Homo sapiens: one gene and its partners. The protein of the gene in region 1 purifies or fractionates together with the protein of each later gene. This does not show direct contact. Each region holds a gene or a part of one and is shown in the gene's direction. Other genes may lie near its edges.

Region 1 (3,651 bases):
GAACTTGATAAACATTAAGCAGCTTGACCACCAAGTTGTGGTTCTTTCCTACCAGCTGTGTTAATCACATACAAAGAAACGTTTATCTATCTTTGATGCTGCTTTTATAATAGATGTTTATAGTCTGAACTCTGTGCATTGGGATTTAGTAGGTTCTATGTCACTGAAATAATATGCAGAATTGTGTGGATGTGAATGTGTGTGTGCACTGGATAGAGAGAGGGTCATAGCTTTGTTCAGATACTTGAAGTGGCTCATGATCCACAAAATGATTATAAGGTCTTAATGTGAAACAGCTTGGTGAAATGTGTGGTTTTTTTCCATTCGCTGCCATATTCAGATAGATTTTCTTAAATAGTGTTTAGCCTGTAGGTCACCAGTTTTAAAGTTTATGGTGACAGATGCTGGCAGAGTCTGGGTGATGACAGACTGACTGCAGTTTTAACCACAGTGTTTCCATTCAGCCTGAAACTGGAACTTACTGAGACCATCAAGGACCGGCTCCACCAGATCTGGAAGACATTAGTCCCTTGGGGCCACAGTTAAACTTTAGAAAGAAGTTAAAACTTCTTTCTGAAGAAGTTAAACGTATTTAAACAACTATGACAATCAGTAAAAACCACATCTTCCTTTGGTTAATTTGATGAGATTATTAATTCCGGAATTTACTTCTTTTTTTTTTTCCTCTGCATTGTTGTTTATGGACAAGAGAGCCTGTAACAGGTTGGGGCAGGAGTGATCTGGTCTATTAAGTAAACATGTTTTTGAGAATTATTCTGAAGTGAATGGACTCTCAAGATAATGTATAACAGGAGTGGAGATAAAATTTCTTGACCTGCAAAGAGGGCCCACCCATATATGTTTTTCTGGCTGGTATAGATTAACTACCTCACAGAGATCATCCTCTTCACTTCACCATTTCCTTGGTTGGGAGTTGAAGAAAGTGGCTAGTTGAACCCCTGCTAAAGGGTAGAAATGTTACATCATGAGTTTAAGCATTCTCTTTTTCTATCTGAGGTCCAAAAAGGCTTCAGGATAGTCCCAGACTTGAGACAAGTTTGTTTGTTTTTTGATTTTTTAGTTTATTTAAAATCCTTAATAGTGCAAGGATTGTGCTATAATTCTGATCACTGTGGAATTGCTTAGTGTACTGTCATTTATAACATTAAGCACAGTTATCCTTAAGAAAAGTATTCAGTTGTTCAGACAAGTTTGACCATCAACTATATTTTTTGGAGTTGAAGGAATGTCGATTGACTCAGGCCTAGCCCCTCATTCTGGCTCTCCTTGTTTACTTTTCTCTTTTTCATTTTTCTTTTTTAAATAACAGTTTTATTGAGATAGAATTCATGCATTTAAATGATTTTTTTTTACTATATTCATGAGTTGTGTAACCATCACCACAATCCATTTTAGCGTATTTTCATTACCTTAAAAAGAAATCCTATACCCATTTATAGTCATTTCCCATTTCCCCCTAGTCTCCGCAGCCTAGACAACTACAAGTCTACTTTCTGTCTCTATGTATTTACCTATTTGGAACATTTCATATAAATGGGGTCATACAATATGTGAGTCCGTTGTGTAAGGATTAAAATTCCCTTTTATCTTCCTTTCATTTTAGTAAGGTCAGTTCCACCTGGCATATAGAACCTGGGAGTTGTAGCTTCTAAACTGTGGTAGCTTTTGGTGTATTCAGCACTGAGAACCTATGCAAGTCCCTTTTCTTCTTTCTTTTCTATAAAATGATGACACTGTTTAGCTCCCCAAGGGCATGAGAAGAGTTAGCAGAGATGCACAGATTAAAGTATAAATTCAGAGAACTATTAAGAACTTCCCTGAGCCAATACGTTTAGCACTGACTTGCAGAATTTAGCATCTAATATTTATGCTGCTCACTTGACATATATAATATCCTTTGATCCGGCCGGGCACAGTGGCTCACACTTATAATCCCAGCACTTTGGGAGGCTGAGGTGGGTGGATCACCTGAGGTCAGGATTTCGAGACCAGCCTGGCCAACATGGTGAAATCCCATCTCTACTAAAAATACAAAAAATTAGCTGGGCGTAGTGGCACACGCCTGTAATCCCAGCTACTCGGGAGGCTGAGGCAGGAGAATCACTTGAACCCAGGAGGCAGAGGTTGCAGTGAGGCAAGATCGTGCCATTGCACTCCAATCTGGGCAACAAGGCAAGACTCCGTGTCAAAAAAAAAAAAAAAAAATTCTTTAATCCAAGCGTCAAGGCTGTTTGAACCATATGTCAGACCAGAGTAGGATTTTTCTCAAGAACAACATCCAGACTTATGCAATTATATTTATTGAAACTAGCTTTAATTTTTTTTTTTTTTTTTCTTTTGAGATGAAGTTTCGCTCTTGTTGCCTGGGCTGGAGTGCAATGGCGCCATCTCGGCTCACTGCAACCTCCACCTCCCGGGTTCAGGTGATTCTTCTGCCTCAGCCTCCTGCGTAGCTGGGATTACAGGTGACTGCGACCACGCCCAGCTAATTTTTGTATATTTAGTAGAGACAGAGTTTCACTATGTTGACCAGGCTGGTCTTGAACTTCTGACCTCAGGTGATCCAGCCACCTTGACCTCCCAAAGTGCTGGGATTACAGGTGTGAGCCACCACGCCTGGCCACTTTAATGATTTAAAAACATAAATTAAAAACCTGATGTCTATTGTGAGATATTTTATAAGCTAAAAATTTGGAGTTACTACCATCACCTTCCCCCTATTTTTCTTCTTCTATCGATTCACTCTCAGCCGGCAGTCTTTATATTCAGAGTCATCATGAGAAAGAACAAGGTTAAAGTCTACAGTTACCTTTGCTGCTGTCATATACCATGTATGAGCAAGTGTTCTGCTGTTTCCTTCAAGTGCTTGTTTTTGTAGAGTAATTTGAGTAAACTGAATTGATTTTCCCCAACAGACTTACCCCGAATAGATTTCAGTAGTATAGCTGTGCCTGGCACATCAAGTCCCCGGCAGCGCCAGCCACCAGGAACACAGCAGTCCCACTCATCTCCTGGAGAAATAACTTCATCTCCTCAGGGCTTGGACAATCCAGCCTTGCTCCGAGATATGTTGCTGGCCAACCCGCATGAGCTGTCCTTGCTGAAGGAACGCAATCCACCCCTGGCAGAAGCTCTGCTCAGTGGAGACCTTGGTAAGCTTATAAATTTGGAAGGCTATTAGGCTGGCCTGAGGTGAAGAAGCTGTGTCATAGCAAATGTGAAGAGACTCAAGCGACACTGTGTCACATGATTTATTGAACATACCAGTTTTTTCTCTGTGAGAGGTAAATTAGTGCTAAAGTCAAAGGCTGAGTTACTTGGAAACAGCAATAGAGTTTTAGCAGTGAAATCCATCTAGGCCACCCCCCTTGGTTTACTTTTTGTTTTCCTCATTGTTTTTGGCAGCAGATAACCTAGGTACTGATTTTTGTTTGTTTCTTTGTTTTTTCTTTGAGACGGAGTCTTGCTCTTTCGCCCAGGCTGGAGTGTAGTGGTGCAATCTTGGCTCACTGCCAGCTCCGCCTCCCGGGTTCATGCCATTCTCCTGCCTCAGCCTCCCAAGTAGCTGGGACTACAGGCGCATGCTGCCACACCTGGCTAATTTTTTGTATTTTTATTAGAGACGGGGTT
Region 2 (3,751 bases), on another chromosome or scaffold:
TTCTCAAGTTGCCAAGTAATTGGTTCTCTCACTGTGCATTGATAATGTATACTTTGTTAGCTTTACAGTTTATATTCTGCAATAAGTTACAAAGTTGTACCCTAAGGTTATCTTTGCTGCTATGATACATACAGTCCGGTTCATCAGCCTGGTTAAGGACAGGGTATTGTTCTCACAGAATGTCCAGCCTTATCCAATGTTCCAACGGACTTATTCAAAATAATTTCAATTTACAAAATCAATTCAGTCTCCGGTTTATGGTGACAGCAGTTTCTTTCTCTGAGAAACACTAAAAAGTTGCCAGCAGTTCCATTTGAGTAACTGAATAGATTTGCTACCTATTTCCTGGTCCATTCTGTATTGGGATGGAAATAATGTCGTCTTTCCTTTTTTTTTTCTTTTTTGAGACAGAGTCCCGCTCTGTCATCCAGGCTGGAGTGCAGTGGTAGGATCACCGCTCATGCAGCCCCCGAGCTCCCGGGCTCAAGCGATCCTCCCACCATTCTCCCCAGTAACTGGGACTACAGGCATGCGCCCCCACACCCGGCTGATTTTTAATTTTTTTTGTAGAGATAAGGTCTCGCTATATTGCCCAGGCCGATCTTAAACTCCTTGGGCTTGAGATCTTCCTGCTTTGGCCTCCCAAAGTACTAGGAGTAAAGGGGTCATGGCTAATTCTTGTTTTTTTAAATTACTAATGTGTCCCTTACAGATAAATAAAAAAGTAAAATTACTCACAATTCCACCAATCACTGAGAGACTTATTGGTGTTTATCTATCCAGTCTTTTCTGCCTTTCTCCATAAATCACAGTTTTTAAAAACGGGACCATACGGTACATAGTGTTTTGTCTCCTCACCCCCTTGAATAACCTTCACATTGTTCCATGGTATTTACAGTATTTACTAATAATGACTGTAAATGTAAGAGGTATATAACTGACTTTATTCAGGGCATGGCAAGCAGGAGTGAATTATTTTCTTCTTATCAACACAGCACGCCCCTACCGCCACTCATCCCTATAGTCGTTCTCTAAATACCTAAGTGACACCTGACCAGCAAGGTTTCAGGGTCCTTGTGCTGAAAGGAGCAGGCTCGCCTGGGGTCACGGCCCTCCGCTTCGCAGCAAGACCCCACCGCCCACCACGGCCCTCCAGTTAGCCACAGCTCGCTTCCCCCAGGACCGGGCCAGAGGTCCCGAGAGGGCACTCTGCGGACCTAGGGGCCCCAGCCTACAAGACGCTGTGTCCTGCAGTCATCCCCTTTACACAGCAGAGCCCCAATTCTGGGAAGCCGGGGTCACCCCGAGCCTCCCTTCCCCGTGACAGCTCGGCCGGTGCATCACCTTCCCTCGCGGACCCTTTCAGCATCACCACGCGTGGGAGGAAACCCAGGACGGGCGCCTGAGCCTCGGTGGCGGCCCACCCCGGTGCCGCGCGGCGCCGCGGCCGGACCGGCGCCGCGCCGTCCCCGAATGATGACGCGCTTCCTGCCCTCCCAGCGCTCTCGGGCAGTGCGCTCGCGCTCGCCCTCGGCTCTTGTTCCGCGCCCGGAGCCAGCGGCGGCGGCAGCGGCTGAGGCGGCTGCGGGAGCGGAGTGGTCGCCCAGCGCGCGGGGGGACGCGGGCTGCACTCCCGGGCAGGCGCTCTGCAATGAGACAGTAAATGCATCCCCCGGTAAGGCGCACGGCTCACTCGGGTTTTCCTCTTCCTCCAGCTGCATGCACGTTGCATGAATTTCTCGTGTCTTTTCCCTCCCCTCTCCAGAAGGAAAATGTGGGGTTTTTTTTCCTCCCTTTTGCTTCTCGTGAGTGATGCCAATGCAGGAAAAACCCGTAAAGCTCCCAGATTTGATGGTCTAGGAGGGCTTCTTGCAGGAAAATAAAAATAAAATGAAATTAATGCACCTGTCTATTGCACATGTATGTTTCACTGCACCGGACCCGGGCGCAGCGGTTTGCAAACAGCCTCGCAGTCGGCGCCAGAGAGCGGATTCCTGGCCGTGGGCAGCCGGTCCCCTCCGGGGCTCTCGCTGGGTTTCCGGTAACTGGGCTTTGAAAAGCGGCCCCGCCTGCATAGAGTGTCCCCTCGACCCCAGCCGGGCCCCCGCGCCAGAAGAGTTGGCGCTGGAGGAGCAGCTTCATTCCAGCACTGGCCGCCGGGACTCCAGCGCCACTTTGCAAACAAGTCTCCCGCCGAGGCTCTGGGCTAAGACAGCCCGCCAGTGCGGAGTTCCTTCTCCGGTGCCGGACACTCAGACCTGCCGATCCCACGACTGCCCTTTACTTGGCAATCTCGCCACGGGCGAACTGCTGGCCGCTGAGCGACGGGGGCAGTGCCGGGCCGAGAGCGGGGCCAGGCTTTGCATCCAGTGCGGCTGGCCTCACACAGACTCAGCGGCTCCCTCTCCTTCCTCGGTCCCACGAGCTGAAATTTTGCGCCCATTGGAAGCTGGAGGGACCTGGAGACGAGTATTTCGGGATCCCTGAGGGGACCGAGGAACGACTTTCGAGGGCGCCATATTTTCAGTGGGTCTTGACTGCGGAGGGGAGGGGGCGAGCAGTTTCTGGGTCCCGGGGAGAGCCCCGCGCCCCAGTCGGAGAGGCCTGATCGGTTGTCGCCGGGAAAGTTTGCGCGCCGAGGCAGGCGCGGAGGCGGCCGCACAAGGCGCGCACGACTGCTGTCCCCGCAAGGGCGCGCGGACTACAGCGCGTCGCCACGCCAGCCGGCGGGGCTTGGGAACGAGAGCCGCCGTCACGGACAGCGTGCTGGGCTTGCCGCCTTCCTCTGTCCCGCCTGGACCCGGCCTTGGGGCTCCGAGGCTCAGGGAACACGCCCCTCTTCCCCGCAGCTACCGCTGCCCGGGTGCTCAGCCGGAGCCGTGCGCTGGGCGGCGTCCCGGGGCTGGGCGCCGAGTGTAGAGCGTTCTCCCGGTGCCCGGGCTCGCCTGGGTGCTCCGAGGGGCGCAGTAGCTCACTTCCTGGGGGAGAGGAGGCGCCTTGGTTCGTGGATCAGGACCAGGGCCTGGCCTGTGGTCGCCCCGAGGCCGCCGAACAGCCTGAGCTTCCAGTCGCCTCTTTGGCTTTAGCGGCGACAGCAGTAGCGCCCGCGGCTGCGTGTTCTGCTCTCGCAGCTCGTAGAGGCGAGGAAAGGAGGGCGTTTCCAGAAGTTGGGGCTTCAGGTGACGCGTGGGGAAACTTGGATTCTTGCTGTCCTTGAAGAGCTGGGACAACTTAGGCCAGAATTCCTGTGTCTCATAGTGAAAACTTCTGGTTCTTTCCAGAAGATGAGAGAGGAATGAACTGAAGTGTTGGCGTTGTCAAAGACATAATTAAAGACGGTTGGGTAGGGATGATGTCTTGGAGAAGTGGTCCCCAAAATACACGTAAATTGCCCTGGTGCTGTAAGTACCACTTACTTTTCCATTAATAATACCTGGGTGTGTTAAGCTGTGGCATTGTAAGGTTGCACGCTGACCTCCCTTCTCCAGAGCTTGGAGGCAGCGACCTCTCTGGAGTGAGGGGGAAGCGGGAGTGGGGAATCTTTACTTTTGAAGTAGACTGTGACCTCTGCTTTGTGATGGGACAGGGCACGGGCGTGTTTGCCAACCTACAGGCAGCCAATTGCAGGAACGTGTTCTCCTTGGAGTGTTACCGAAATGATGTCATAGTATTGAGGTTTTGTCGGCACTTCCGGTCTTCTTCACTGAAGAGGCTAGAAGGGACCACAGAAACCTCTGGGGTTGGGGGTTAG
Region 3 (3,651 bases), on another chromosome or scaffold:
AAAGAAAACTATCCTTTACCTTTTAGCACACAAGTGCATTAAAACATAACTATAATTATCTTGAAAGCACATACTATTATGAGTATTGGGACATCCGGATGTTCTGTCGTTGTGGGAGTGTAAGGATACTTGCAGGCATCTTCAGGCTGTTTTCTTAATGTCAAACATGTTATGACCATGGGTTGTGACTGGCAAGGAGTGTTTCTTGTTAGTCTCAAGATGGAGCTGATTGGTCTTTCTCTGGCTCCCCTAGGCACTTGCTTCCCTAACACTTATATAGGCAAAAGGCAAATAAATGTAACAGGATTACATTTTCCATAGAAGGCTGATGTATGAGGTACAATAATTTAATTTTTTTTTTTCTTTGAGACAATGTCTAGCTCTGTGGCCCAGGCTGGAGCAGTGGTGCGATCATGGCTTACTGCAGCCTTGACCTCCCCAGCTCAAGCACCTCAGCCTTCCCAGTAGCTGAGAGTACAGTTGCCCACCAGCACACCTGGCTAATTTTTTGTATTTTACAGAGGTGGGGTCTCGATATGTTGCTCAGGCTGGTCTCTTGCTCCTGGCCTCAAACAGTCCTCCTTCCTTGGCCTCCAAAAGTGCTGGGATTATAGACATGAGCAAATGCATGTGGATAACAACTTAATTTGTAGTGGTTTGCTTTTTTCCCCCAGAGCTTGTTTTCTTTTCTTTCTAGCTGGTTTATATTTCCTTTTCAATTTAAAAAAGTGAATTTAATATTCTAGCTGAAGACAACATGATAGCCATGGAGTCTTTGTGTGAGAAAGTTAAGAGGGAAATTAGTGTACTATAGAGATCAGTAGTAGAGAGGGGCCTGGCGGGATGGCTCACACCTGTAACCCCAGCACGTTGGGAGGCCGAGGCAGGTGGATGGCTTGATCTCAGGAGTTGAAGACCAGCCTGGCAACATAGTGAGACCCCATCTCAATTGTGAAAAATCATATTAAATTTAAAAAGACAGTGACAAGGGAAAGGGTCTTTCCTGTTTCCCTTCAGTCATTTACAACATTTTACAAAACACTATAGGTAAGAAAGAAGGCAAATCTGTAATCAGGGAAAGGAGGGTTCCAGCTAGCTAGGTGAAAGTTGTGTGTCATGTGACTCAACCCCATGATCACATTGCTTCAAGATGATGTAGAGATTCATCAGCTTAAATTTTTGAATTACTTGGTTGTTTTTGCTTGTTTGTTTGTTTTGAGACAGGGTCTCACTCTGTCGGCTAGGCTGGAGTGCAGCGGCGTGATCTCAGCTCACTGCAGCCTCTGCCTTCTGGGTTCAAGTAATTCTCTGGCCTCAGCCTTTCCAGTAGCTGGGATTACAGGTGCGTGCCACCACACTCGGCTAATTTTTCTATTTTTAGTAAAGACAGCGTTTTATCACGTTCGCCAGGCTGGTCTTGAACTTCTGTCCTCAAGTGGTCCATCCACCTTGGCCTCCCAAAGTGGTGGGATTACAGGTGGGAGTCACTGCACCGGGCCTGACTTACTTGTTCACACAGCCTATATAGGTAGAAAATTTCTAGTTATGTAATCAGCGGTTAATTGGTGGATTGTGCCTGATTAAGCATAAATTTCATTTCCCTATACATTAGTAATTTTCACGAGTTGTATTTAAATATGATTTCAGGATCCTTAGGTAGGACCTTAGGACACCTCACACAGTTTGGCCTCATTGCTTCTTATTTAAATTTTTTCACATTCTCCAGGGCAACTGGTTTCCCCTTACATTTTCCAAATATATGGGATGCAGCGTCTCAAATCCTCCACCCTCATACCACAGCCTAACTCTTCAAGGGCTTGCAGTGAAATCTGTTTCTGAACATTTCACATGAGAGGAAAGCAGAGAATAACCACTAGACATTTGCCTGAAAAATCCTTTCTGCCTCTCCTCCTTTTATCTTTCCTAGACACAGACACCTTATCAGGATGTCTTTGGGATGAGGTTCCTTTCTGGAAACTTTACAGGGTGATGTGTCTTCAGTACACCCTCCTATCTTTTCCTGGTTTTGGGTTTTAGAATTGCCTGGGGCTGGCTCAAGATCCCCACAACTGCCATGTCTCCTGGAGGGTCTCATGGGTATTAGTGCCTTAGGGGAGTGGGACCTCCCGAGGGAGCAGCTGAATGCCTTATGGTGGAGGAGATGCCTGGTATACTCTTCATCTACATAACCAATTCTTGGGGTGCTCAGCTTCTGTCTCCCAACTCCACTTTCCATTAATTGGAGACACATGGCTGTTCTGCCAATCGGATGTTGCTAATGAGGAAAAACAGAGATGATTCCTGTCCTCTGGATTGTCTCAACTGTGAAGAGAGAAATATCCCAAAAGACAAGGAAAGGCCACTCCAACAAGGATGTATTTAGCTGTCCCACAGGGAGGTGGTCACCAGAATGCAGCTGAGTAAGTCCCATATGTGAGTTAACCACATGGAGGAACTGGGAGGAGGTGGAGAACCAGAAACTGTTCAGAGTTTGAGTAAAGTTTTCTTCTGTTATAACAACGTTAAATCCATAAAGAAAATGCATGCTAAGGTAACATATAAATAAAAGAATTCACTGTAACAGGTAACTCTAGAATTAATTAAATTATTGTATATGGAGATGATGAGTAGTAGATTGATTATTCTCCTGTAGATAACCATTTGTCCCTGCTTTTTCTGTTAAGTGTTCACCACTTGTATCATTGGCTGGCAATACCTGGTTTGTCATAGTTTCATATTACCTTAAATAGATGTCCAGAGCAGGTGCAGTGGCTCACACACTTTGGGAGGCTGAGGCTGGCAGATCACCTAAGGTCAGGAGTTTGAGACCAGCCTGACCAATATAGTGAAACCCCATCTGTACTGAAAATACAGCATTAGCTGAGCATGGCAGCGCATGGCTATAATCCTAGCTACCTGGGAGGCTGAGGCAGGAGAATCGCTTGAACCTGGGAGGTGGAGGTTGCAGTGAGCCGAGATCCCGCCTTTGCCCTCCAGCCTGGGCAAGGAGAGTGAAACCTCATTTCAAAAAATAAAAAAAAAACTAAAAAACTAGATGCCCTGGTCTCACAATTTGCTGTTTTCCATTGGTCTGTCCTTCCATCTCTCTGTTAATACCATTTTCTCTTAATTAGTGTAGAGTTCAAAGCTGCAGTGTATAGTAGGGATATTGCTTCTCTATCTTAGTCATCTTGGGCTGCTACATCAAATTACCATAGACTGGGTAACTTAAAGAATAAACATTTGTTTCTGACAGTTCTTGAGGTTGTGAAGTCCATGTTCAGGGAGTTGGCAGATCTAGTGTCTGGTAATGGCCCGCTTCCTGGTTTGCAGATGGTCATCTTGTGGTTTCTTCACATGACAGAAAAGAGAGGAAGCTGGCTGTCCTGTGTCTTCCTATAAGAGCACTAATCTCATTCGGAAAGCATCTACCTTTATGCTCTCATCTAATCCTAATTAATTCCCAGAGATGTCAACTTCTAATACTATAGTGGGGGGTAGGTTATTAATGTGTGATTTTTTTAGAGTGATGCAAATATTCATGCCGTAACACCCTCCAACCATATTCTATAGAGCATCTTGGCTGTTCTTAGTCATTGTCTTCTATTTCAGTTTTTAGAAGTACTTTTTTCTTAATTTTAGTGAAAAAAA

Evidence for each region.
Region 2: the proteins of DDI2 (region 1) and TLN2 fractionate together in Homo sapiens (co-fractionation; one large-scale study listed by BioGRID). This does not show direct contact.
Region 3: the proteins of DDI2 (region 1) and ZNF763 purify together in Homo sapiens (co-immunoprecipitation; one large-scale study listed by IntAct). This does not show direct contact.

The regions. Positions count from the first base shown.
Region 1 is NC_000001.11:15,627,389-15,631,039, forward strand, and holds part of DDI2 (protein DDI1 homolog 2), read left to right. Parts: intron 1-2,936; coding exon 2,937-3,173; intron 3,174-3,651. UniProt on the Homo sapiens protein: Aspartic protease that mediates the cleavage of NFE2L1/NRF1 at 'Leu-104', thereby promoting release of NFE2L1/NRF1 from the endoplasmic reticulum membrane.
Region 2 is NC_000015.10:62,389,011-62,392,761, forward strand, and holds the start of TLN2 (talin-2), read left to right. Parts: upstream 1-1,539; 5' UTR 1,540-1,675; intron 1,676-3,751. UniProt on the Homo sapiens protein: As a major component of focal adhesion plaques that links integrin to the actin cytoskeleton, may play an important role in cell adhesion. Recruits PIP5K1C to focal adhesion plaques and strongly activates its kinase activity.
Region 3 is NC_000019.10:11,967,906-11,971,556, forward strand, and holds part of ZNF763 (zinc finger protein 763), read left to right. Parts: intron 1-3,651.